Regions from separate parts of the Homo sapiens genome. Here all the other regions are linked to region 1. The links come from fine-mapping of genetic effects on gene expression. A gene starts in region 1. Each other region holds a variant in brackets. All regions are shown on one strand. Distances are from middle to middle. Region 1 holds the start of ETV6 (ETS variant transcription factor 6). Region 2 overlaps ETV6 (ETS variant transcription factor 6). Region 3 overlaps ETV6 (ETS variant transcription factor 6).

What was found. PIP is the estimated chance that this variant, and not a neighbour inherited with it, causes the effect.
Region 2: its variant is fine-mapped to the expression of ETV6 in whole blood (TOPMed, PIP above 0.99).
Region 3: its variant is fine-mapped to the expression of ETV6 in whole blood (TOPMed, PIP 0.97).

Annotation. Positions count from the first base shown.
Region 1 is chr12:11,645,312-11,653,494 of GRCh38, forward strand. It overlaps ETV6 (ETS variant transcription factor 6), which reads left to right and starts at 4,363. Exons shown (of 8, transcript NM_001987.5): 1 at 4,363-4,849. The coding sequence starts at 4,817. RefSeq lists enhancers at 3,266-3,365, 7,403-7,512, 7,843-7,892 and silencers at 3,546-3,785, 4,076-4,285, 4,496-4,545, 4,556-4,715.
Region 2 is chr12:11,825,487-11,833,669 of GRCh38, forward strand. The region is part of intron 2 of ETV6 (ETS variant transcription factor 6); the gene reads left to right. Among named protein-coding and RNA genes, the nearest start is that of ETV6, 180 kb to the left of the region's middle. RefSeq lists an enhancer at 4,797-4,996 and a silencer at 6,824-6,893. The variant G/A (reference allele first, on the strand shown) is at 3,927.
Region 3 is chr12:11,753,343-11,761,525 of GRCh38, forward strand. All of the region lies in intron 2 of ETV6 (ETS variant transcription factor 6), which reads left to right. Among named protein-coding and RNA genes, the nearest start is that of ETV6, 110 kb to the left of the region's middle. RefSeq lists enhancers at 237-286, 5,284-5,333. The variant C/T (reference allele first, on the strand shown) is at 4,116.

The DNA of each region.
Region 1 (8,183 bases):
ATAAGTAGAAAGCGTTCAAATTGAAACAAGGCAGGTGTGGTGGCTAGCACTGTAATCTCACTTTGAAAGCTAAGACAGGAGGATTGCTTGAGAACAGGAGTTCGAGACCAGCCTGAGCTGATCTCAAAAAAAAAAAAAAGGAAATACAAGGAAATAAAACAGAGTATTTGAGATACATGGAACAATAATATATGGTCTAATACTTGTATTAAGAATAAAAAAAGGAAACAGAATGGGTGTAAAAATATTCAAACAGATAATAAATGACAATTTTCTAAAACTAATGAAAGATACCAACCCACAGATCCAATAACTGCAGCTGACATCAAGGTGAATAAATGATAAATGCAAAGAAAACCACTCCTGTGTACATCATAGTCAAAATTCTGAAAACCTAATTTAAAGAGCAGATCTTAAAAGCAGCTACAGAAAAAAGTGTACACTGTACACAGGGGCACCAAAATATGTACTACAAGTGATTTTTTAGCAAAATATGAAGTCAGAAGAGGAATGACATGTTTAAAGTGCTGAAAGAAAAGAAAATGTCAACATAAAATTTTACGTACAGTAAAAATACCCTTCAAAAGTGAACATGAACTAAAGACATTTAGAGGCAGACAAAAGCTGAGAGACTTCTCCAACAAACAGCACACAGGCTATGCTGAGTGAAGTTCTTGAGGCCAAAGGGAAGATACCAGATGGAAAACCAGATCTGCAAAAAGGAATAAAAAAGTACTAGAAAGGATAAATATCTGGGCAAATTAAAAAGAGACATACTTTAATACATTCATTATATGCATATATTTACAAATTTCTAAATACCATAAAAATACAATGTAAAATGAATTTTATAACATATAGAAGTAAAATATAACACAACAATACAGAGGATGGGAGAGGGATAAATGGAATTACATTGTAACTTTTTTACAGATTCATAAAATAGAATAATATTATTTAAAGGTAGCCTGTGATAATAACATACGCAAATTGTAATTTCTAAAGCAACCACCATATTTAACATAAAGAAGAAAATCTAAAAAGACAATCTAGTAATTTAAATGGAATATGAAAGAAAAAAATCCAATTTACCCATAAGTTCTCAGAAAACAAGGAACAGAGAAACAAGCGACAAATGGAAATGAATGAATGAGAAAAACTTCCCTCAACCACTGTTATTGAACACTGAATGGCTCTGCAAATAAGCTTTTACTACAGACTCAATAATGTTTCTTTATGAATTTAACCTAAAACTACAAGGCAAAATAGAGCTTATATGCAAAACTTAAACTGCAGTAAAATCATTTTGACACAACTAACATTGTTTGAATCACAAATAATGTCAAGCTGTTTTACACACTTCTCATGCTGTCAAAAGTTAAAACAAGAAGCAAGATCTCCATTCCAACACAAATTTGCAGCAGTTATGTTTTTCTGAACTCAAACTACAGTACCAACAGTGTTTTCTGAATTTCAATGCAAGTGCAAAGGAAATTTTCATATTTAAAATTTACTTAACTGTGCAACTGAGAAGCTTCCATTTAACCTTCAACTGGAAGTGATTAATCTGCAATGTAATGGCATGCTAAAGGGGAAATATCAAGAGAATTTATAGAATTCTAATAGAATTTTAGAAATGCCTTCTAAGCAATGAATACACTCAAGTAAAATCATGTGCTCATGGGTTGGTATCAGTATTTGGCGGTATCTGTCTGGGTAGAAAGACATTTCAAAAATGAAGTACATAAAATCTCATAAAAAATCAGCATTAATAGATGAACATCTGCAGTCAATTTTTATGAAAGAACACTTTGAACACCAAGTGAAATGTTACTTTCCCCCCAAAAGAATTCCATGCCTTTCATTATTATACCTGTATTAAAATTGCTATTATTACACTTTGAATTGACAAAATAAAAAACTGTGGACTTTTTTTTCTTCGTGTTATATAAGTATCTACCTGACATTCTCAATTTTGTCTCTTGGCCCACAAAGACTAAGGCATTTACAGCTGGGCCCTTTACAGAGATTGGCAACCCCTGGTCTAAATGTAGTTTTTGCTACAGTTGTCAACTATGTTTTTTGCTTTGGAACCACAAACATTCTACTTCAAACTACTACTTCTATGAATCACTTGTAGACGTTGAGGAGGAGTTAGGAAGAAAAGTCGAGAACTAATTTAGTCCTGGGGTTAAATAATAATTGTAGCCAACTTGAATTGAGCACATATATTGTGCAGCTCTCTGCTAAGGAGGCATTTGTATATATTTTCTTATTTAATAAGATAATCTTATGAGCTAGGTACTATTTCTCCCCATTTTACAGAAGCTTAGTGACTGTGTTGTCAGGGATCACATTGCTAAGTGATGTGGAAGACATAACCTAGCAATGGGACATCTAAACCAATGTCTGCAACATCAATTAAGAAAAGCAAAAGAGGCCGGGCGCGGTGGCTCACGCCTGTAATCCCAGCAATTTGGGAGGCCGAAGTGGGTGGATCACGAGGTCAGGAGATTGAGACCACGGTGAAACCCCGTCTCTACTAAAAATACAAAAAAGATTAGCCGGGCGCGGTGGCGGGCACCTGTAGTCCCAGCTACTCGGGAGGCTGAAGCAGGAGAATGACGTGAACCCGGGAGGCGGAGCTTCCAGTGAGCCGATATCGTACCACTGCACTCCAGCCTGGGCGACATAGCAGACTCCGTCTTAAAAAAAAAAAAAAAAAAGCAAAAGAATACAGAAAATTGTTAAAGGGGAGAAGGGGGTGGTCAAAGGCAGAGGAGTCGGTGTGGACAAGACAGAGATCTCTTGGAGAGAGGGCAGGACTACCAGTTGACAAAACCTGTTCAGGTTCCTGGAGGCTCACAACCACCAGTTCCCATCATCCCAGCAACAGCACTCTTTCCCACCCTAGCCTCGTTCGTAATGATCTGATCAATGTGTGAACAAAAATATTGTGTGTACAAGTCTCAACACATTTGATAATGTGAAGAGGTGAAGGAAAGTGGGTAGGAAAAATCTGTAGGGTGGGGAGACTCGGGGAAATGTGTCCTGGTCCAGTGCAGGTAACATATATGGGTATATATGCGTATATACATATTTATACCATATTTAATATATTACTCTATTAAGAAATTATAACAAATTTCCTTTTACATTACACATCCACATATTAAACCCCCAATATGTGCTAACAAGGTTAGAATTTAAGTATAATGATAATGTTCTCAGTTTTTTGTGGTGGACACTTTAAGAGAGTGTAAATAATAATAAAAATAATAGAGTGATCAGATCACTTGTGCTCAGGGCTAGACCCTTCAGCCCCAACGGCCTTAACCCCCCTCAACTGCTTTTCCAACCAAATATTCCTCCCCCTGCAGGATCCCAGGGCCATCCAATCAACCGGCCAATGACGGTTTCAGAGAAGCGGTCCTGGGGAGGGGTATTATCTGCAGGAACACGTCCTGCCAACTTTGTAGTCGAGTCACCTATTTCGGTTGGTAGCGGCCGCTATTTCTTTAAAAGGGCAGTGGATTTCGAAACAGGAGGGGGAGGTCAGGAAAAGGAACTCAGCTGCCTTTGATAACTGCCCTGCAGCCTTCCCTTCCCGGAGCGCGTGCTCGGCTCGGGAAGCGCCCGCGGCCGCCGCATCCCCGAGCGGGCGCGTGGCGCCACCTCTTTCCGGGGCGCCCACCTTCCCCGGGAATCCCCCCGCCCGACGGTCCCCCAGCGTCTGCGGCGCGGCCGCCCCGGCTTTGTCTCCGGCGTCGCGCTCGGGCGCCCGCTCTCCCCACATTTCCCCGTGTGCAGGCTGTAACCCGATCTCCCATTTCCTGGTGGATTCTCTTAAAGAGGCAGCGGTCGAGAAGCAGAACAAAGGCTATTGTTTTATTTCCTCCTTCGGATTCCGCGTCCTAACCGGAATGGCCCTTCATAGATAATTACTTTCGTTGCATCTGCGCTTAGTGAAACGTTTCAAAACCCTTGTGCACATCGATGTATCCAAGAGACGGAGCCAGGGGAGGTGGGAGGAGTTTAATAAAACCTGTTTTGTGGTGTCTGGGGCCACAATGTAACGTTTTTTAAAGGTGTCTTCCTTAAGCCCGGAAATTGGCTCGGCCAGCGGGAGGTCTCGCGGCGTGGAGGGCGGGCGCCCGCACCGGGGGCCGGCCTGGGGGGCTGCGCCGCTCGCCCCGCTCGCAGCCGCGGCCCCACGCGGCCCCGCTACCCGGGTTTCCTCCGCCCGCGCCCCCGCGGCCGCCCCTCCCCCGCGCAGCTTTTATTTCCCCGATGCCGGGCTGTAACCCGAGCTTTTATTTCCTGGTGGCTCCTTTAAGAGGCAGAGCTCAGTGCTGGGAATTCACGTCAGTTTCTGCACTGAAACTCTCAAGATCAATGAGCAAAGAGCTTTCTCAGTTCTGCCTTTCAGTTTCTCTCTTCCAGGAAGGAAAACATTCGAGAGAGCGAGGGAGAGCCGCGGGAGGGCGGGGGGCGGGGGCGCCGGCTGCGGGTGGGAGGAGAGACCGGGAGGCCGGCCGGGCTGCGTCCCGGGTCCCCGCGCCGCGCCGCGACCTGCAGACCCCGCCGCCGCGCTCGGGCCCGTCTCCCACGCCCCCGCCGCCCCGCGCGCCCAACTCCGCCGGCCGCCCCGCCCCGCCCCGCGCGCTCCAGACCCCCGGGGCGGCTGCCGGGAGAGATGCTGGAAGAAACTTCTTAAATGACCGCGTCTGGCTGGCCGTGGAGCCTTTCTGGGTTGGGGAGAGGAAAGGAAAGTGGAAAAAACCTGAGAACTTCCTGATCTCTCTCGCTGTGAGACATGTCTGAGACTCCTGCTCAGTGTAGCATTAAGGTAAAAATCTTCTCCCCTCCTTCTACGTGGTGGAAACCCTGAGCTGCACCGGCCAGGGCAGTCGTGCTGGGCTCCTCAGAGCAGGCTGTTGCAGTTGCTCTGTTCGCAGGAAATTATTTGGGGCGAGAGGGAAAGAGATGCAGCTCGCGGTGGCTGCTGTACCCTTTAGCGTAACCTTGCTACTCCCCCCCACCGCCGAGCCCCTGCCGGCTCCTCGGCCCCCACCCCCTTGCTTTTTGACAATGAAATGCCGGTCACAATTGGTCAGAGCAACCCGGATTGTCTCCAGAACCGTAAAACACCCCCGTAATTAGTGCGCTTAAAAAAAAAAAAAACAAAAAACAAAAAAAAAAAACCTGCTCCCTATTCCTACACCCAACATGTGACTGAAATATAACTTTTGTTCCCGAGGGGTGGTCGTCTTAGAAAAAAAGTTGTTCAGTTTCCACTGCGATAGAATCTTTTTATTTTTTTAAAGGACTCTCTGGGTCTGATCAGACAGGATTTTTTTCCCCCTCGTCTGATTGTAATTGCAAGCGCTGTCGGAGAGACAGTCCTGGTGTCAGCTTTTCCTAGGCATTGCACAATGAATTTTTTTTTAAAACCAAGGTGAATAAAGTTGCTGAATAGTTATTTTACTCCGATCCATATGAAAGTTGAGCAATCCCAAAGTAGAAAACTCCTGTGATGGAGGGAGAGGAAGAACTAAGCAACCAGGCAAAATGACCTTCTGTGTTTGACAGTGCAGAGAGGCTATCTAAGCAGCACTCTGTAAATGCAGGGCGGTAGATGTTTGTAAACACACTGCTGGGCTACCCAGTAGTTGTGTGTATGCATGTCTATATATCTGTAAAGACTGTGGTGCTGCGGTTTGTTGCTTCTAAAAAGTTGTTGTAAAGTTTGCCACCATTGGGAGGCAGGATGATTTATCCATCTACCCGTGTTATTTTTCCCATCGCTGCATTTATTGTACACTTTATTCATTTCGCTGTTCCACCAGTACCCAGGTAGAAAGCCTTCCGCTCTTGTGAGAGGCTGAAGCTGCTGAAGTTTGTTTTTGGTTTGGCCTATTTAATGTGTGTTCACTGAATGGACACTACAGCAACAATGAACAAATAACCTGTTTTCTTCGTCTGTGGGGAGTTAGAAAAACCCTTCCTGGTTTAACACTGCCTTTCAATTAGAGTCTGTGTAGGGGAAACGCAGTAGTTCATCATACGTGCTTACTAGGTTTTTTATAATTAGAATCACATTTTGGTGTTTCTTATCAGAAAAGATATTCATGGGTTTGAGGATAGGCTAATGTGAAATCAAAAGGTGGTTTGGGCTTCTTTGTTTTTGCCTCACAAAAATGCCTAATGGAACTTTTAGGCTTTTGTGTTTGTACATAACTGGAGGTAGCAGTATGTATGTCTGTGGGCATGGGGCGTGCCACACTAAAGAACTTAGGGTACTTTGATATTAATACTTCAAAACCAGTTTCTTTTGCGGTATAAATTAGATTCTACACAGAGTTCAGGAAAATCCTGCGGTATAGATAATCTAATTTATTTGACGCTTCATAACATAGAGGTAACTAAATAGTAGGATATTCAATAAATAAATTGTATTTGGCTCAGTGGCAATAAACCCGACATCAGGAAAATCTGCCAACTACAGATCAGTAACTTTAGGGCAAAAACAACAAAAAACAATGCTTTCTGTGACGTTTCTTGATCCTCTTCTATACTGCATCCCCACCGTTTTGATGGGCTTATGGTGGTGTGCTGGCTGCAGACTGCTACTGAGTGGTTTGTTTCATTGTGCTCCAGTCGGAAAAAGAGTACAACAGTCCCTTGCCTTACTCACATACAGAACCAATCCCAAGCAAAACGCGTTCTTAAATGCAACATGAAAATTGTCTGTAATTTGCATATCATTTTTTTCCTTATTGCTTACAACTCAGTTCTTTCAGGGTGCCTCTTTTCATTACTGTGTACTTCTATGTAATTAAAATAGATTTAATGTTCTTTACCAGAAAGGAAAGAATCACTTTTATTTTGGATCGTTCTTTATGGAACGAGTATGTATTTGCTTAGACTGCATGTGTCTAGGTGAACGTATGTGAAGAGTATCTTTCCATGGAGTTTGTTTAATTCAGTGTTCCAATAATAAGCACTAGAGATCAAGGACTGGGATTATTCCAGGTCATCTGAAATGTTCTGGTGATGTGTGCTGCGTTTCATTTAGTCCTTGGGATGTGGTACGGTGACTGCATAATAAAAAATGTTTGCTGGTAACCCACAAGCAAGTTGCTTGCTTCTAGAGTCCAGTAAACAATATGCTTTTCTGTGTAGTGAAGAACGAATGTCAGAGGTTTTCAAGGATGAGCTGATGAACCTGATATACCGAACTCCTGTGACACAAAAGGCTCTCACTGTGGAGAGGTTTTTCCCAGTCCTCCTCTCCACTCCTGAAACCGTCCTCACTTGCTTTCATTCCTTACAAGTAGCGGGTCAGCAGGCAGACAGTTCCTCAGCGGCTGGTGAGATGCAGCCACAGAGGGAAGTACTTTGTTTATTTCTGAGCAGTGCCTGCTCTGCTAGAAAAGAGTAGTGTCCGATTTGGGTGGAGTTTCCAAGGTGAAAGTTTCTGAATTGGTCAATCAGTGACGCCTTTGTAAAGATGGCTCATGTGGTGGTCGCTCGCAATGAATGCCTGATAAGGGCTTTTCTGTTTCTTTTGCACTGTGTAAGTTTGCTCCCATCGCCTGGGGAAGTTAATATCAGACACACACTTTTTACGGTAGAAGAGAGGTTGACTACTCCAAGGGCACTGAAACTCTCACTGAGCCTTATTGTTTCTCTACACGCGACTTGCAGAAAGCAGGAGTGCTCGAGCACTCCTGGGGGGGTCTGTCCTACAACCCTTGAAGGTTGTGGCACTGTTGTCATGGAAGTTCAAATGCTTCAATTCCTGACCATTTGGGGTCGTTTAAATGGAAGGAAAGGATCAACTCTCTATAAAAAGTCAAATTGTTTTAAAGAGGATTGCCTGGCTGACTGTGCTGGTCACAGGAAGAAGGAAGAGGCTGTCTTTTCCATCATCAGCCTTCACCTTCAAGTCACCTCTTCAGTTCTAAGTTTGACCAAGTTGCAGCGGAAGGTGGTTGTGGCCTAGCAGACACGGTCCCTTGTCAGGCTTGGCACAGCTTGTTAGTGGGCCAGGACTAACCAGAATCCAAAAACGAGTCACACAGTGTCTCTAGTCCCCTCCTTCCCTGCTGTCCGTATCAGTCAGCTTTCATAGCAGAAGGAAATCTGGTTTTTAAAATTTTGCTACTAACTGGGAGACT
Region 2 (8,183 bases), 180 kb after region 1:
CCTGTCTTCACATGGCCATCTCCTCTCCTCTGCGTCTCTCCTCTGTTTCCATATAAGGACACCTGTCATTGAATTTGGGGCCCACCTGCATAATCTTGAGATCCTTAACTTAATGACGTCTGCAAAGAGCCATTCTCAAATTAGGTCTTATTCACAGGTTCTGGGGATTAGGACACGGACATTTCTATTTGGCAGCCAACATTCAGCCATCTCCAGTCACTGAGCTAGTAAGTGACAAAAACAGGATTTGAATTTCGTTGTTTCATTTTATTATAACGTGGTTAAGAGAGATTTTAAATATTTCCATTAAGTTAGCAATTCTTGCCAACAACAGTAGAAAGCATGCCTTTTTTTTTTTTTTTTTTTTTAAAGTCAGAGCCTCATTCTGTCACCCAGGCTGGAGTGCAGTGGTATAATCATAGCTCACTGCAGCCACTCCTAGGCTGAAGCAATTCTCCCACCTCAACCTTCTGAGTAGCTGGGACTTCAGGCATGCACTACCACACCTGGCTAATTTATTTTGTTTTTCAAGGAGATGGGGCTCTTGCTATGTTGCCCAGGCTGGTCTCGAACTCCTGGCCTCAAGCAGTCCTCTCACATTGGCTTCCCAAAGTGCTGAGATTACAAGTGTGAGCCACAGGACCTGGCCAACAGCATGCTTTTACAAATAGTAGGGTAGCAGGAGGCCAGCCTGCAGACCGCCCAGAGACCTCACCCCATCTTACGCTCTGCCCAACCTCAGGGGAGCATTTTTGCACTTGGTGGATTAGCATTACTTGCTCCATCCATGATGAGCCACTCATGCTCTTCACAGATTTTCCAGACTCCCATGTCAAAGTTAAAAAACAGACATCGGCCTCTTTCCAGAACTCAGAATATTCACATCTATATTGTTAACACTCATACCTTTTCCAGCACAGAATGAAAAGCACCTTTGAAGAATCGTAAGCCATGAATGATGACGGGCCGAAGGGAGTGAGGGCTCCTACCTCTTGTCACTCCTACCATCCTGCCTCCAGGACCCCTGCCACCTACTTGGGAGTCTGCCCTTAAAACTCAAGGGTCACCTGACTCATTCCTCCCCACTCATTCATCTGACTACCCACCAAAGCTAAGTGTGAACAGCCTGTATTGATTTATCATTTTCCTTTTGCCTGCTTCCTCTGGTACAGAGATCTTCATGCTTTCATCCAAACGAATGAATAATGTAAAATCCCAGGTGGGGTGACAGAGCCAAGGAGAAAAGTGTTCTGCAGCAAGGGAGGGCCTCCCAGTATGAGCCTTGGAGTCTCAGATAAGCCCAGGGACAAAGCATGAGACATCCAGTTACATATCTGTGGCCCTGGAAGGGGAGACGGGGTTCGCTTTGTGGTGGTGTTTAGCTTTCCTGACTCCAAGTGACCATCTTAAGCCAGGGGATTAGTAACCTTTACAACTCTAATACTAGGGAATATATTAATAACTGGTGAGAAAAAAGATTACAGCTTTTTTATTGATAGGTCTATAAAAGCCATTTCCGTATGAATGTCCTCAGAAAGGAGGAATAAGGGGATGAGATAGAATAGAATAGAGAGAAGTCTGTCTCACACACACACACACACACACACACACACACACACACACACAAATGCAACACAATTATCTTTAAATAGAAGTTGCTTCTCCAAGTTTGTTTTTTTTTGTTTGTTTGTTTCATGAGGCGTCAGCAACGCTGTTAAAATGATTTCATCCTGCCTGTGTGTCACAGCAGTCTGCCCCGCGAAATGCTGAATCAGCAGCAGCCCAGACAGCCTTTCGGTGGAGGGTAGATTCGACACCCAAAGGCAACCAACCGGGCCTTTGAAAGCACTTGGAAGCACTCTCCAAAGAGCCAGGGAAGAGGACAAGGAAGAAGGGGGTGCAGTGGAATTCTCCTTAAAAAACAGCATGTTCTAGAAAAGCCATGCTTTGGAGGTGCTGTAGGTCAGATTTGCCTTTGGGTCCCTATGTGTATTTTCTGAGGTCTGTTCATGTAAAAGTTCAACACCTCTTTCGCACTCCCTTCTCCCAGCCCCCGCGCCCTGCCCCCACACCTCCTGTCCACCTCCACCTCCTCCTCCTGGAATTCAGTGATTATCAGGACTGTCTCCATCCTGAGAAGAGGCTTTTTAAAATTTCGCAGGAGAATAGAGACACCCGAGAGGGCTGGGAACAGGCACAGCTGAGCCACACAAAGCCAAGCCTCCTCCATGCAAGTGACGGACAGATCAGGTCCCAGTTCAGAATGAGAATGAGTTTTACTCTGGTTACACTTTGCACAGGAATGTTCTGCAGACTGTGCCGGGCACCAGAGATGGTCCGTGTGCGGTTTAAAAGAGCAGGAGGGGAAAGAATTTTCATCCCTCTTTATTCAGGCACCCTCAGGAGAGTATCCATGTTCTGTGAATCATGCAAATCCTGCAGGATCTTTATGTTCTCTGTACCCCATCCATTTCTGCTGAGGATTACAAACATTCTTGCACCAACTTTCCTCCAGCAGTTTCGATTTCTCAATAAATCTGTTTGAGGAACATTTCAACTCTTAATATCTATTTTCCTACTTTTTTTTTCTTCTTAAACTCAGGCTTCTTTGTAAGCATACATATCAGTAAGTTTGATAATAAAAATGACCTTTCTGCCCTGCAGTATAGGAAATGCTGCCTTAATGCCTCTTTGCTTTAGAAACTCATCCTTGTATAGTATCTCTCCTTGCATAGCCAAGTTGCCTCATTGTACGTAAATTAAGGTTATTTGCAGTGATTGACCCTAACTACTATGAAGAAAAACTTTCAATATGTTAGCAATGATGTCTATAATAACTGAAGAAGGGACATTCCCTATTTAAGGTCAGGACTGTGCGTTTCAAATAAAGAAATGACAGCTCAAACATTTCATTGTACCCCCACTTCTAAGTGAGAAGAGGGCACCCTTCGTGTCTCTCTTTTCTGTTTTTCTCCCTGAAATATCAGGAGAGACATATATCTCTCTTAAACCTGATTTGGTTTTCGCATTACCTCACAGGTACATATTGTCAGAACTATTTGCATACACGAGACTAAAAAAAATACTAAACGGATTCTCCAGGGATCCATGGATAAACTTGAGGTAGTCTATAAGCTTTGAAATCACAAGCAAATATTTGTGTCCATGTGCCTGTGCATTTTGAAGGGGGGTTTGTTTATGAACTCTGGCTGAATTCTCAAAGAATCCTGTACCTTCTTCCTAACGCTGAGAAGTACTTGCTCTAATCTCTTCCCCACTCCCTTTTTGCTGTCCCCTCCCCATTATCTTTTTTCTTTTTGATATGGACTTTAATTAAAATGTTGATGCTTACGTCACCATACATTTTCTGCATTAATTTTGATTTTTAAAATATTGCGTTACATGACTTAATCTTGATTACTGAAACTTTTTAAAGGTACCCCTTAAATTTTGCTCCTGGGGCAAATGTCTTACTTGCCTCAGCCTAGCCTGGGGCCTGAGCGGGCACCTCCTTCAGCCTTCTTTCCTCCAACCTCTCCCTGATCCAGGCTGTTTTCCGCAACCCCACCTGAGCCATTTTCCCAGCCTGCAAGATGACAATTCAGTCCCCTCCTCAAAGCACTGTACTGGGCCTCATAGCTCCTGCCAGAGCCGTCATGCACCTTCCAAGAATGCTTGCTCCAGCTTCTGCAGCTCCAGGGAGCTGCTGAAAGTATTTTGGTCTTCTGGAGACACGGGACAAAGTACAACTCATCTACTATCCAGTCCTTGTCCTACCCAACCCCCCAAAATGCATTGAGCACTTGCTCTGTACCAGGCACTGTGCAACATCTCTATAGGGATCACCTCATTTCATGCTCACATTTGCCCTAAGAGGTAAGTACTATTCTGGACTCCATCTTACCGCTGGAGAAACAGATTCAGAC[G/A]CGTAACTAACCCAGCGCTAGTAAGTGGTGCAGCCGGTGTTTTAACCCAGGACAATTTGACTGCGAAACCCAAGGTCTGATCTAAAATGCTACATGGCTCTCACCACATTGGGCTTGCTACCCAGAAGCAAAAATGAGAAGAACTCTTCTAAGTCACGTTTGTGAGGCTGAGCGGCAAGCTCTGGGTCAGTTTTGCTGTCAACAGGTTTTCTGCTAAAAACCCGTTTGTAGCTAAAACTAGATAAAAGTCAGAAAAATCCACAAAATGAAGTTTATAAGAAAAAACATCATTCGAGGGAATTGACTGTGACTTTGGATCTGAACATGAACATAGAGTGTTCTTGTTCTTGGACTTTGGGCTGAAAGACATGAGTATAACCTTCCGACCTCCACTTGGAAACTTAGTGCTGAGATACAGGCTAACCTTGAGGACAGAAATAGGAAATGTTTTGGAACTTCCAATTCCCTAGTGACAGGATTTGTTTGCAGAAAGCAGCTTTGGTCAGATAGCACATTCAAGATTACAGGCAGACCCAGAGGAGTGAGATGTGGAGCTTGTCAGAATGCATCCAAGGCTGGCCTGGGGGTTTTGAGCAGATTTGCAGAGAGCAGGCCGGTGGGGAAGGGAAAGGAGGCAGAAAAGTCTCCGGAAAAGTGCCTCTGGGAAGCAGCTTGAAGGGCTCTGAGGACACTTGGTTTTCTTTTGAAGGGCAGAGTACACAGGGAAGAACTCTAAGTAAACCCTGCCCTCGGCAAGCAGAGGTCAGAAGGTGCTCTGTGGGCACCGAGCAGTATTCGGGATCTGCAGCTAGACCAGGCCTGCCATGAGAAGTTGAGTTTATGGTTTATTATTCCTCATTCCCTTAACATTTTTACAGTGCATTTTAGAGTGCAAGGGGCTTTTACATCCATTATTTCCTTTAACCCAGGGGAAGTTCACTGGGTAATACAGAAAGCCTGGAGCTGGAGTTTTGGTCTTAGGTTCATTGTGACCTTGGGAAAGTCCCTCGATTTCTGAACTTCAGTTTCTTCTGAAAATACAGTTGTGCCAGCTTTAGCTCCCTCGCAGAATAGATGATGGCATGACATGGATGCGGAAGCATCTGGTAATGTTTTGAACTGCACAGAGCTGAGTGTCCTGACCATCAAAGCCAGAGCTGGAGTAAGTGATCAGATGTGTCGGGGAGGAGAGGGGTGCCAATCACAGACTGCAGAGCTGGCTCAGATGTGGACTGCCTAGGAATGGAAATCTTTGGCTGTACAGTCTGGCATTAAACCTGGGGACTGTTATGTGCCAGGCACCGTGTGCAAATCACTGCAAAATCCCCTTCAGCTACATGCATGGACATGTTAACTCTTAACACATGTACCTAACAATTCACAATTTCATCTCCCAGAAGGTGGAAGATGCATTGAGGAGCATTGCTAATTTGCACTCAAATCTGACAAATGAGGAATTGTCTGGAAAAGTAGAAATGATAGCAGAGGGTGAGAATAAAAACATGATTTTAGGATTGGGGAAGGGAAATGAGAGACAAGAACAGATGTGTTTTCTTGACTTAAGACAAATTTTTAAAATGTAGGGAAAAGTATTTATGATCTCATGATCTGAATGCTGAGACACAACTCAGAGTCATTTGGGCTGCTCTTGAAAATGAAATCCTGACTTATCAACTGCATATGACCCTTATTGGAATAAGAAGGAAGGGAGACAACTAAAGAAACTGATGAGGCGATATTGGGGATATTCTCTGATTAGCTCAATTTTTAAATAGTTTGTGTGTGTGTGTGTCTGTGTCTGTGTGTGTCTGTGTGTGTGTTTGTTTGTTTTGAAATAGAGTCTCACTCTGTTGCCCAGGCTGGAGTGCAGTGGTGCAATCTCGGCTCACTGCAAACTCCACCTCTTGGGTTCAAGCAATTCTCTTGCCTCAGCTTCCCAAGTAGCTGGGATTACAGGCGCCTGCCACCATGCCCAGCTAATTTTTGTATTTCAGTAGAGACAGTGTTTCACCGTGTTGGCCAGGCTGGTCTCAAACTCCTGACCTCAAGCAATCCACCGGCCTTGGCCTCCCAAAGTGCTGGGATTACAGGTGTGAGCCACCACACCCAGCCCTTAAATAGTTTTTTAAATATAAAAGTAAAACATGCTTAATAGAGAATGAGAAATAAGAAAGAAAAAAGGAAAAGGAGACAGGGAATATCACCTACAATTTTACTGAGTGTCAATTCTTTGAATATTTTTACGTTTCATTGTATTTTTCTATGCATTGAGATTATTACATATGTACACATACTATTTTTCAATATGAATACATACTCTTCATCATGTTACTGGCTGCATTAATTTTCTATCATAGATATTGTCAGTAACTATTACTTATTTCCTTATTGCTGTTCCTAGTTTTTCATTATTAAAAATAACACTGCAATAGACATCTTTGTGCATGAAAGATTCTTCCACATACTAAGTTATTTCTTTAAGGTAGATTCTGAGAAGTTAACATTTACAGGGTTCTTAAAATATCACTAAGTTGTTTGCCAGAGAGATGATGCCAATTTATCTTCTCACTGTTTTGTGAGTACCAGTCTAATGAGCTCCGATTTTTAAAAAGATGTATATAATGGATGAAAAAGCAACTTAATGAAAAGAAACATATAAAGGAGAGTTTCTGAGCTCTAGAATTTTAAAACGTAAGTGAGCTGAAAACCATGGAATACGCTTAAGAAAACAATAAATGTGGGCAGCAGGATAAGAATAAGCATGATGTCAGCCTGCTGATGGGGTTGGATGGGGTAACATCAGCAAATGGCAAAGAAACCAAAACTGTTCAACTTCTTTCTCTCTCCCATGAAGGAGAATGATTGTCAGACTGAAACAGGTAGTGCAAACATTGACAGAAGGGAATTGAAGCCTGAGATGGGTGAATTGATTGTAAAAGCAAACTAAGTTCTGAATAAATGCAAGGCTCTTGGCCCGGACAAATGACATCCCAGGGTCGAGAACTCAGAGGGGTGAAAGATAAGCCACTGGCAGTGATCCTTCAGGGTTGTGGGAAATGGAAGCTGTACTAAAAGAATAGGAACTGTTGGTAACCTGATTTTAGGAAGAGAAGCTGGGGAAAATGTGGGTACGAAATAAAACAGCTAACCTGATGGAACTTCCAGATAAAATTCAGGACAGATTTTCAAACATACATGTTACGAGTGGAAGACATTATCACTTTGGAGCCAGCCATCTGCTCCTCATCCTCTCTCCTCATCTTCTTTAATAAGGTTGCTCTAAGTGTTGTAGTTGCTGTATTTCAGGATATCAGGAAGGCGTTTCGTTGAATTTCTGATGTTGCTTTCATGGATGAGCTTGGAAAATGTCCAAAAACCAGAGTATTTAGATGGATTGATCATTGAACAACTCTTCCCAAAAGGAGTCAATAACTTGATCAGTATCCGTCCAAAAGGAGGTGACTGGTGTGTCACCAGGGTACTCCCATCTCAGCCCTATACGATCTGCACTTTGTCAGTAACCTGTGGAGGTGACAGATGCTTAGCAAAGCCACAGATGACGTGAAATTACAGAGTATAGATGCTAGAAATCGATGGAAATCTGGAGAAGACTGCAGCAGGCTGGGATGATGGTTAAAAATAATAAGATAAAATGTAATATCAATTAATATACATTCTTACAGTTGGGTTCCAAGTGCTAGCTATATATGTTCAGGTAGGGTGAGATTATAAAGGTGATTATAACAATAACAGTACAAAAGCAATAGCTAATGTTTTTTAAGTGATTGCTCTATGCCAGATATTGGCCTGTGTGTTTCATATCATCATCATGTGTATAATTTTACTCTACACTAGTTTTATGTCATCTGAAAATTGTATAAGTACATTATCTATGATTCAATGATATTTAATTCACAGGATGAAAGTTGTCCTCATTTTTCAGTTGACACCAGCAAGACACAGAGAGGTTAAGTAACTTGTACAAGGTCACACAGCTGGGAAATAGAGGTTCCATGCTTGTGCTCAGTGCCTGCATGCTGAACTACCGTGAAACTTTTTCTTTTTAAAATTTAGTCATAAATTTAATTTGATATCCTGCCAAAACACCAAATAAGCTTAGAGAGTTAGGTAGTTTTTAACGTGGGCTCGGAGCCAGGTCACCTGGATTCAAATGTCAGCTCTTCCATTTCCTGGCTGAGTGACTTTGGGCAAGTCGTTTAACTTCCCTGTGTTCTAGTTTTCTCCTCCATAAATGGG
Region 3 (8,183 bases), 110 kb after region 1:
TCTCATACTGCCACCCAGCTCAGGTGATAAAACAGGATTGGGGCAGCTGGAGAGACTGAATCACCTGATTCCCACCCTCTTCACAGTGTCCAAGAAAATGCCAGCTTCTCTGCCTTGAATGTTATCCTGAGGGCACAAGACTAGCTTATAGAGGACACTTGAGGTCACCTTGGCCCTTCCAGTGACTTAAATGGTGGCACAGTCTTGCTCACCATCTCTCTCCAGCAGGGTGATGCTCTCCAGTTCTTCTCCTCCTGTTCCACCCTCCTCAGAAGGTTGCTTTCTGAATGCAGAGAACAGGAGACAGAGGATGCAGGTTCTTCCTTTCTCTCTCTGGTAATTCAGGGAATCAGATGACTGTGATATGGGGGCTCCTGGGGGAACACTGCCGCCGGCTTATGCCTTCTGCCCCAGAGGGCAGACGGTTGCTGGGATGTTTGTGAGGAGTTGGAGGCATGAGAATCCTTTCCCTCCTGCAGCTTGCTGCGTCCATCAGTATTTACGAAGTTGCTGCCTACTATGGTCAAGACATTTCTGCTTCATTTGGGCAGGGAAGTAAAGGACACAGCCCTACTCTACCATCTTTTCCTCTACTTTTAAGGAGGTTCGAACTGTAAAGGTGCCAGGGTCATGGCTGGGAACATCAGTGTTCTTAGGAAACTGGAATGTTGTGGCACCATGGGAGCAGACACAACTGGAAAAGAAACAGCAGCCAAGTGATAGGAAATTTTCCTCCAGAAGTCATCCTGTGACCGATATATTCACTTCAGAAATATTCGCCTCAGGATGGAACATACTCATGCCACACAGGCAGAACACTTCTGCTACCTAATTCATTCATTTATTCATCTCACAAATAGTTATTGATTGCCTCTGCTGTGCCCGGCACTCTTCTGTGTCCTGGGGGTGCAGAAATGAACAAAGCAGAAAAAACTCCCCTGCTCTTGTGGAACTTAAATTCTAGCACAGAGAAAAAAAAAGTATCAAACACTCATCACAAACAGGCTGAGATTTCTTTCATAACGTTTTATTCCTATAGATTGCAACATCCCCCAAGGAGGCCCTCGCTCCTGGTTCACTTCTGGATGCCTTGACATATGGAAGCTCCTTAACTATCTTCCACGAGATGTTATCCTGACAAAACAAATAAGAAAGCAAACAAACACACTGAACTGGAGGTCAGGAGATCTTAACTTTTAGCTAGTTCTGCTGTTCGACTGTGGGTAATTTAACTCAGTTCTCCTAGCATACAATACTGTGTGTTGACAAGAAAATGTTTAACAGCCTTCCTAACTTTAAAGTACTATGATTCTCATCTGAGGCATCATTCTCCTTGCTTTGAATTGTTTCTTCCATACTAACACTTGAATTTTTTCTTGAGTAGACAGTTTCCTTATTGAGCCGTGTCTGTGCTGCTTACCAGCATTTTGGTAGTGCCTTCTGTGTGCCTAGCACACAACCATAATAGCTAATATTTATCACGGGATTACCCTGTAGCAGGCACTGTGTGAAGTCCTTTACAGGAATTCTTTTAATTCATTCTCACAATACCTGTCAGGTAGGTCTTCTTTCTATCTCCATGTCACACATAAGGGCTTAGACAATTTAAGTAATTTTTCAAGGTCGATCACAGAACCAGTAAGAGATAGAGTCAAGGCTCAAACTCAGTTCTGGCTGACTCCAGAGCCTAGGATCTTATATCCACTATACCACCAAAAAGTGTGTGTTTAGTAAATATTTATTGGATGGATGGATGGATGGATGAATTCAGGGTTGACACTTAGCCAGTGTTCACTGGTGTGGCCGTAGCATTGGTTTATGGCTGGAATCTATTCTAATTGCTGTTCTGTCTGTTCTATCTGTTGTTGAATGGCTTGCATATCACCCTTCGAAGGATGGATGGGTCCCCACGTAGACAGCTATAAAATATAGAACTGCAGCACATTCCCGGAAACCTTTCCATTTCATCAGTAGTTAGACTATGGATTCAGATTATGGTAATGATTTTGCCTGAATGCCTACTCTATGGCAGTCTAACTTTATATACCTCTCCTTGGTAGTCTGCATGAGACCTATTGTGACACCATTGGTTCTGACATCTGTATTGAATCCTCTGGAAGTGGAGGTTCCCAGGCTCTTGCTGTTTGCCCTCAGCTGGGACTTTCCAAATGAGGCTGAGCTTCTGTCCTCCCGCTCCCGTTTCAGGGTTCTGCTGCTTGTCATCCTGTTTGAGAGGAGCATATAGCCCCTACGATGACTGAAGCTGTGCCACACACTTAAAGATGCATCCCAGCTGAGTTTCCAAACCTAAAAGAAAATAAATATTCTAACCAGGGAATTGGGTTATTGCTGTTTTAATCTGGGATTCCAGACAATTCCCAGTGGAATGCTCATGGAAAGTACGGGGAAGAATCTCAAAGCCAAGACAACAGCGGGACATTTATGGTATTGCTAAGTCCAAGGCACTTGTAGCTGCTTATTTTAAAGAGATACTCATCAGATTGGTATGCCTCAAAGTGGGTTCTTTTCACCATTTTCCATTGATTACCAGATAAATCCTCTCCCTTAATTCTTCCTTTCTCTTCTTTCATTCTTAAATCAACTTATATTCTTGTGGATGGGGGTAAAGAGGAGCAGAGATCATATTATTTAAGGTTCTCATACAGAGAGTTTCTCACCATTTTATTCTGCAAACACAGAGCTATACCCAAACTGAAGACACAGCATGACAAATTAGCAAGTTATTGAGAAGTAGAGAGTGATGCCTTTTCCTTTTATTTGCCAGTGATAAAAGCAAAGTGATAAATGGAGTAAAGTGTTAAGTGCTGATTAGAGAGGACTTGAAAAGGACTGGCAAAGAAGCCTGGGCAGAGTGCAAGAGGAGAGCCCAGGGAAGAAAGGCCAGACCGTGCCATCCTGCTCTGACTCACTGCCCAGATTACCAGGACAGTGCCCTTCAACAGTCCTACAGCAGAACCCCTCTGCTTACCGGGAGAGCAAACACAAGTATGTTTGTTGAGAGGATAGAAAGGGCATCATTTTTTCTTCTTCTTCCTCTTCTTCCATAAAGGGTACTGAATTTTTTTTGAAGCTTGAGGGTAGAAGAGCCGAAGTACAATTACAGTAGACAGGTGGGAAAAAAAAAGTTGCATTCTTTAAAGGAACATAAGCTTTTCATTGTAGCTTGAAAACACTTGAAAGACCAAGGACCCCCAAGGGTGCCCAGGCAAGGTCACTCTTGACTCTACGCAGAGAAGGGCTGTTGCTGGGAGCAAAGGATACCTTTGCCCAGTTCTCACCAGGGGACTTGTAGTCTCGCAAGGGAGGGATGTTTTCTGATTTGTCTACCCAAAGGCCGCCCTTTTTCTAAACTCATGGGGGAGTGGCTGCTGAAGGGGGCAGTTACAGCACCTCACGAGGTGCTGCCAGCCTGCTCATTGGCAGAGGCTTACCTTATGAAACACTGGGCCTCAGACAGTGATGCTCAGGCCCCGCCTTAGGATAACAATATAAGTATAGTTCAGATTGATGGGGCAGAATTTAAATAATTAAATGTCGTTATTTTAAATTTCTTTTAAACATGATCATTTCACATTTAGTTGACATTGCGCCATTTGCCCGCAGACTGTGCATTTTGCAGTGTCCATTTGGCCTTCTAAAATCCCTGTGAATTATATTTAAAAATCGGAACGTAGGACTCATTCATCATATTTAATAGGGTTAGGGTTTATGATGTTGCAGGTTAATAAATAGCCATAATAGCCGCTCGGCGTTTTCTGGAGTCAGAACACCAGAAATAGTCCCTTGGCTCTCTTTCCTTTCCTTGTGAATCTTTCAAAATTCTTACATTACTACTCCTGCTTGTGTGTGTTTAATAATTTAATTTAATGCCTTCCTTTGGAAACATTACCTCGCTGCTCACCCACTCGGCTGTTTTGCCTTCTCAGCAGAGTAACTGAGTTTAAGACAGCCACGTGACAGGCACAGCTATATTAGAACCAGCATAGTGAGAAGGGATGCAGTGCCTCTCTTTTCTAATTGGGTAGAGCAACAATTTTATATGCTTTCACATTATGTTTGTTCCCAAAAAAAAAGAGGCAAAATTGGGAGCTGAA[C/T]GTGATCATCATTATTATTTTATATTTTTATACATAACAAGATGCGCTCATACTTATTGTCTCACTTAATTGTACAGCAGTCCTTGAAGCAGGTGCTATTGATTCTGTTTGATGAGCTGACCGTGTCTCCGATAGGTCAACTGGATTGTCCAGGTTCACACAGCATGTGAAAGGCCGAATGTGATTTCTACTTCTTGAAACCACCTTTCAGCTTTTTTAGGAGAAAACATAATGACATAAAGAGTTTCATGGACTTGAAAGTAGAGGCACTGCTGACCGCTGAAGTCTGGGCAGCCACAGGTGCAGGGACTGGGACCGGTGTGGTTCTAGTGATGCCACCTGATCATGAAGTTGTGCTGAATCCTCAGCAGACTGGCTTCTCCCTCGTAGTAGGATGAGGGAGAGGAATCAGGATAACAGCCTGTCCCTGTGGATGGTTTATTCTGGTTTTGTTCACCAGTCCTGCTGCCTCCCCGTTTGTTCTCTTGCGAGCTCAGGTTAGAGTTGAATTTCTCCCTACAACCAGAATGCCAGGGCTGGTCCTGTAGGCCCTGATGGGCCAGCTCTGAGAGTGGGCTCAATCCAGTACCCAATTCCCCAGCATTTTGCTAGGGGTGCCCTTCTAGGAGCAGGGTCTCACTGCTTTTGGAAGTCTCCAAATAAAAAACCATGGTAATAGAAAGGGCTTGGGTCTGGATAGACGTGAATGGACTTGAATTTCAGGGTTGGCTCTATTAGAGAGATGATTTAACCTCTCTAAGACTCAAGTTTCTAACGACACCTACTAATGAGGGCTTCTTAGAAGTATCAGAGCTCATTTATGTATAGCACCTGGCATAGTGCCTGGCCTGCAGTGGCCAGGTAGCTCACCAAAGCTCCATTTCTGTTTCCGGTTATGGTGAATAGCCTGTTGAGGAGGTGGCTTCCCCATGCAGGAGCCAAGGGAAGCAGACATGTCGTTGTCTGTGTGTTTCATTAAAGAAAGGACCTAGGGTTCTGTCTGTGTATTATTGAGACTAATCTTCCTAAGTCACAATGGAAATAAGCTTTGCTTTCAAACGATCCCCTGTGATTTCCAGGGGCTCAGTTTTGCTCTAGGGCACTCCATCCCAGGACCTTTTCCTACCCACATGTCTCTCCCTCAGTCTGGAACTTTCTTCCCGTTCTCGCCTGAATCTGTGAATCTCCTTCAGCCTTCCCCACTCTTCTAATACCTATCAAGTCCTCCCCTGTCCTTTGCTATCACATCAGTGTTCCAAAAATGGCCTCTCCTCACAGCTGCCTGTGACGTGCAGTGATATCACCAGCAGAGTTGAGACAAGGACAAGGAGAAGAGATTTAATTCTCTGTCAGTGTCTTACAAAGCAGTAATGACTTCTAACAAAGCCGACCAGCCACTAGCATTTTCTACTTTGTTCCCCCTTAAGCCTTCTTTTGGGTGCCTTCACTTTTTACATCCAAATGCTTGAAGCTTTCTACTTTCCCCGCGGCACATGTGGCTGTACGAGGGCCCTGGTTAGCTGCTTCAAACAGCTTGAAGAGCAAAAACAGCCCACAGCAGAACAGCCAGGATGCTTTGGAAGGGAAATTTCCTTTTTGGGTTTGCTGTCTGAAAGAATTTCCGATGCAGGCAGACGTTAATTCCTAGCTCCATGCTTCCTGATAAGGAAGCAGCTTCAATAAATGCAGCTATTTATAGATGTCTTTTTTTTTTTAAGAAAAAAAATATATAACCAGAGGTTTACTGACCTTTTCTTTCACTTCACATTTCATGCAGTGAGCTCTGTGTACATTTAAGGCAGTTCCTCCAGCGTCAGCTCTGACAAAGTGGCCCTGGTTTCGCTGTGGGGGATGGGGAGGGGAGGATGAAGATGGCACGGCCCCTCATTAGTGTCACGGGCTCTCCCTTTCCTCAGAGTTCTGAAGTAGACATTTGGAAACTGTTGACAATGGGTTGTCCCTACCTGGTGCTCTGTGTTATTTATGTGAGCCCAGAGGTGCCCAGCTTTATTCTAGACTCAACACTGAAAGGTTATAGCAGACTAAGAGAACCCTTTAAAAAATAAAAGACGATGAGAACCAGTCCATTTTATGAAACTTGAACAGCAACAGGAAATCAGAAACTTTATTTCCATTTCTTCTTTTCTTCTGTCCGTTGCTTCCTCTTGGATTTTCCCAACCCTCAATACGTCTGTGGTCTTTCTCTCGTCTTGATGGGTTTCCGCAGATTGAGGAGTTCCTGTCCATGAGCTCCACAGTCACCCTTACATGTATCTACCTAATGCTTTCTGGCAGGTGTGATAAAGGTTCAGTGTGTTGGCTTGAATGTGCTTCTCTAAGTTACTTCTCACCTCCTCTGATTATCAGAAAGCATTGGTTGAGCTGAGTATATACAAATACAGCAGTTTCCATGCTCAAATAACTGATATTTTCTCCCATTTTGCTTCATGTGTGAGTTACACCACATTAGTAATTCAAACTTTTGGGGTTTCTGGCAGGATGACCTTGACAACTTCATCAGAGGTAAACGTTAGCAGCGACGTTTAGATGTTGCTGCTTTTGCTGTTGCCATGGGTGGATTCTGATTCTCAGTTGCCTGTACCATGTGTGAGTGTTTTGTGGTTCATTTTTCTGATCTCTTCTGAAGGAGGGGTAGAGCAGGACTTGAGAGATTTAAACTGGCCCTGGCTCTGGCCACATGCTGACTGTAAATTCCCAAGTATAATTAGTCACACTGCCCCAATATTTACTGCCTCCATCTTGGGTGTGTGGACAAAACCCCATTCTTTCAACATTGGTCTCCATTTCTGCTTCCAGCAGATCATGGATACCAGTAGCTCTCAAATGGGGCTGTAAGATTCCAGTAATAGAAATGCAGATGATGGGTACGGATAATGGATAAAGAACTGTAGATGTGGGGTGGATGACGATTGGATACCTAGAAGGGAAAGTTGACTGCACAGGGCTACGCAGTGAATACCCTATTTTACCAGGTCAGCTGAGGCTAAATTCTCTACTTCTGGGGTGGGGGTACTAACTGAAATGGTTCACTGAGGAGGGTGAAGGTTTGTAAGGGAAGATGTAACAATACTTTTTTAAAAGCACCTAGGACAAGTTTTAGGGTGTTGAATAGCACCATTTAAAAATTATAGGGGTATCCAGCAATTTATGGAGCTCTGATTGAGAAGTATCATTGTTAGGATTTTATTACCCATTTGTTTTCCAGAAGTAGCTCATCTTTGCAAATGAGCTTTAGTTTTTTGGTCATTGTACCCTACCTGCCAGCTCACAGGAGCCTGTGTTTCTCCTTAGGAGCCACTCTGAGGTCAACCGTGTTTAAGATCATAAAGCCACTCTAGAGAATCTCTGTGGCATTGTTGTGTGGAAGAAGAAATAATGATCACTACTATTATTATATATATGTGTGTGTGTGTGTGTGTGTGTGTGTGTGTATATAAAAGTATATGTGTGTGTGTGTATATATGTATATATGTGTGTATATGTATATGCTTCATATATATTATCCTGAATAATAACAAACTCTGCACAGTAGATATTATACCTGAGGCTCAGGTAAACCACTTGCCCGAGGTCACCCAGAGAAAGTGGAGGAGCCCCAATTTGAATCCGTATCTAATTCCAAAACCCAGACTTTTATTTTCCACTTCACCCTATTACTCTTTAAAAGTCTGAGGAGCAAATGAAAGTTGTTTCATTCTATCTATTGGTTAGAAGGAGAATATCCAAGCTAACAGGCTGATTTTTTTTTCCAATTTTTAAGCATAATATAAATTACTGACAAGAGGGCCCAGATGGATAAAATCAGAGCTATAAACCAAATTATCTTTTGAACTTGAAGGAAGATAAATTTCCATATCCAATCCTGTATGCACACTGTTATCTGCCAGATAGTCTCAGGTATGTGTGTAAATTCTGGAGTGTTAGAAACAAAACTAAATGAAGTAAAAAGAGGTTCCTTGTCTATTATTTTCCATCTTTTTTAAAGAGATGATCTACCTCACAGATGGTTATTAAACAGTAAGAAAGATGCTGTGATTGAATGAAGAT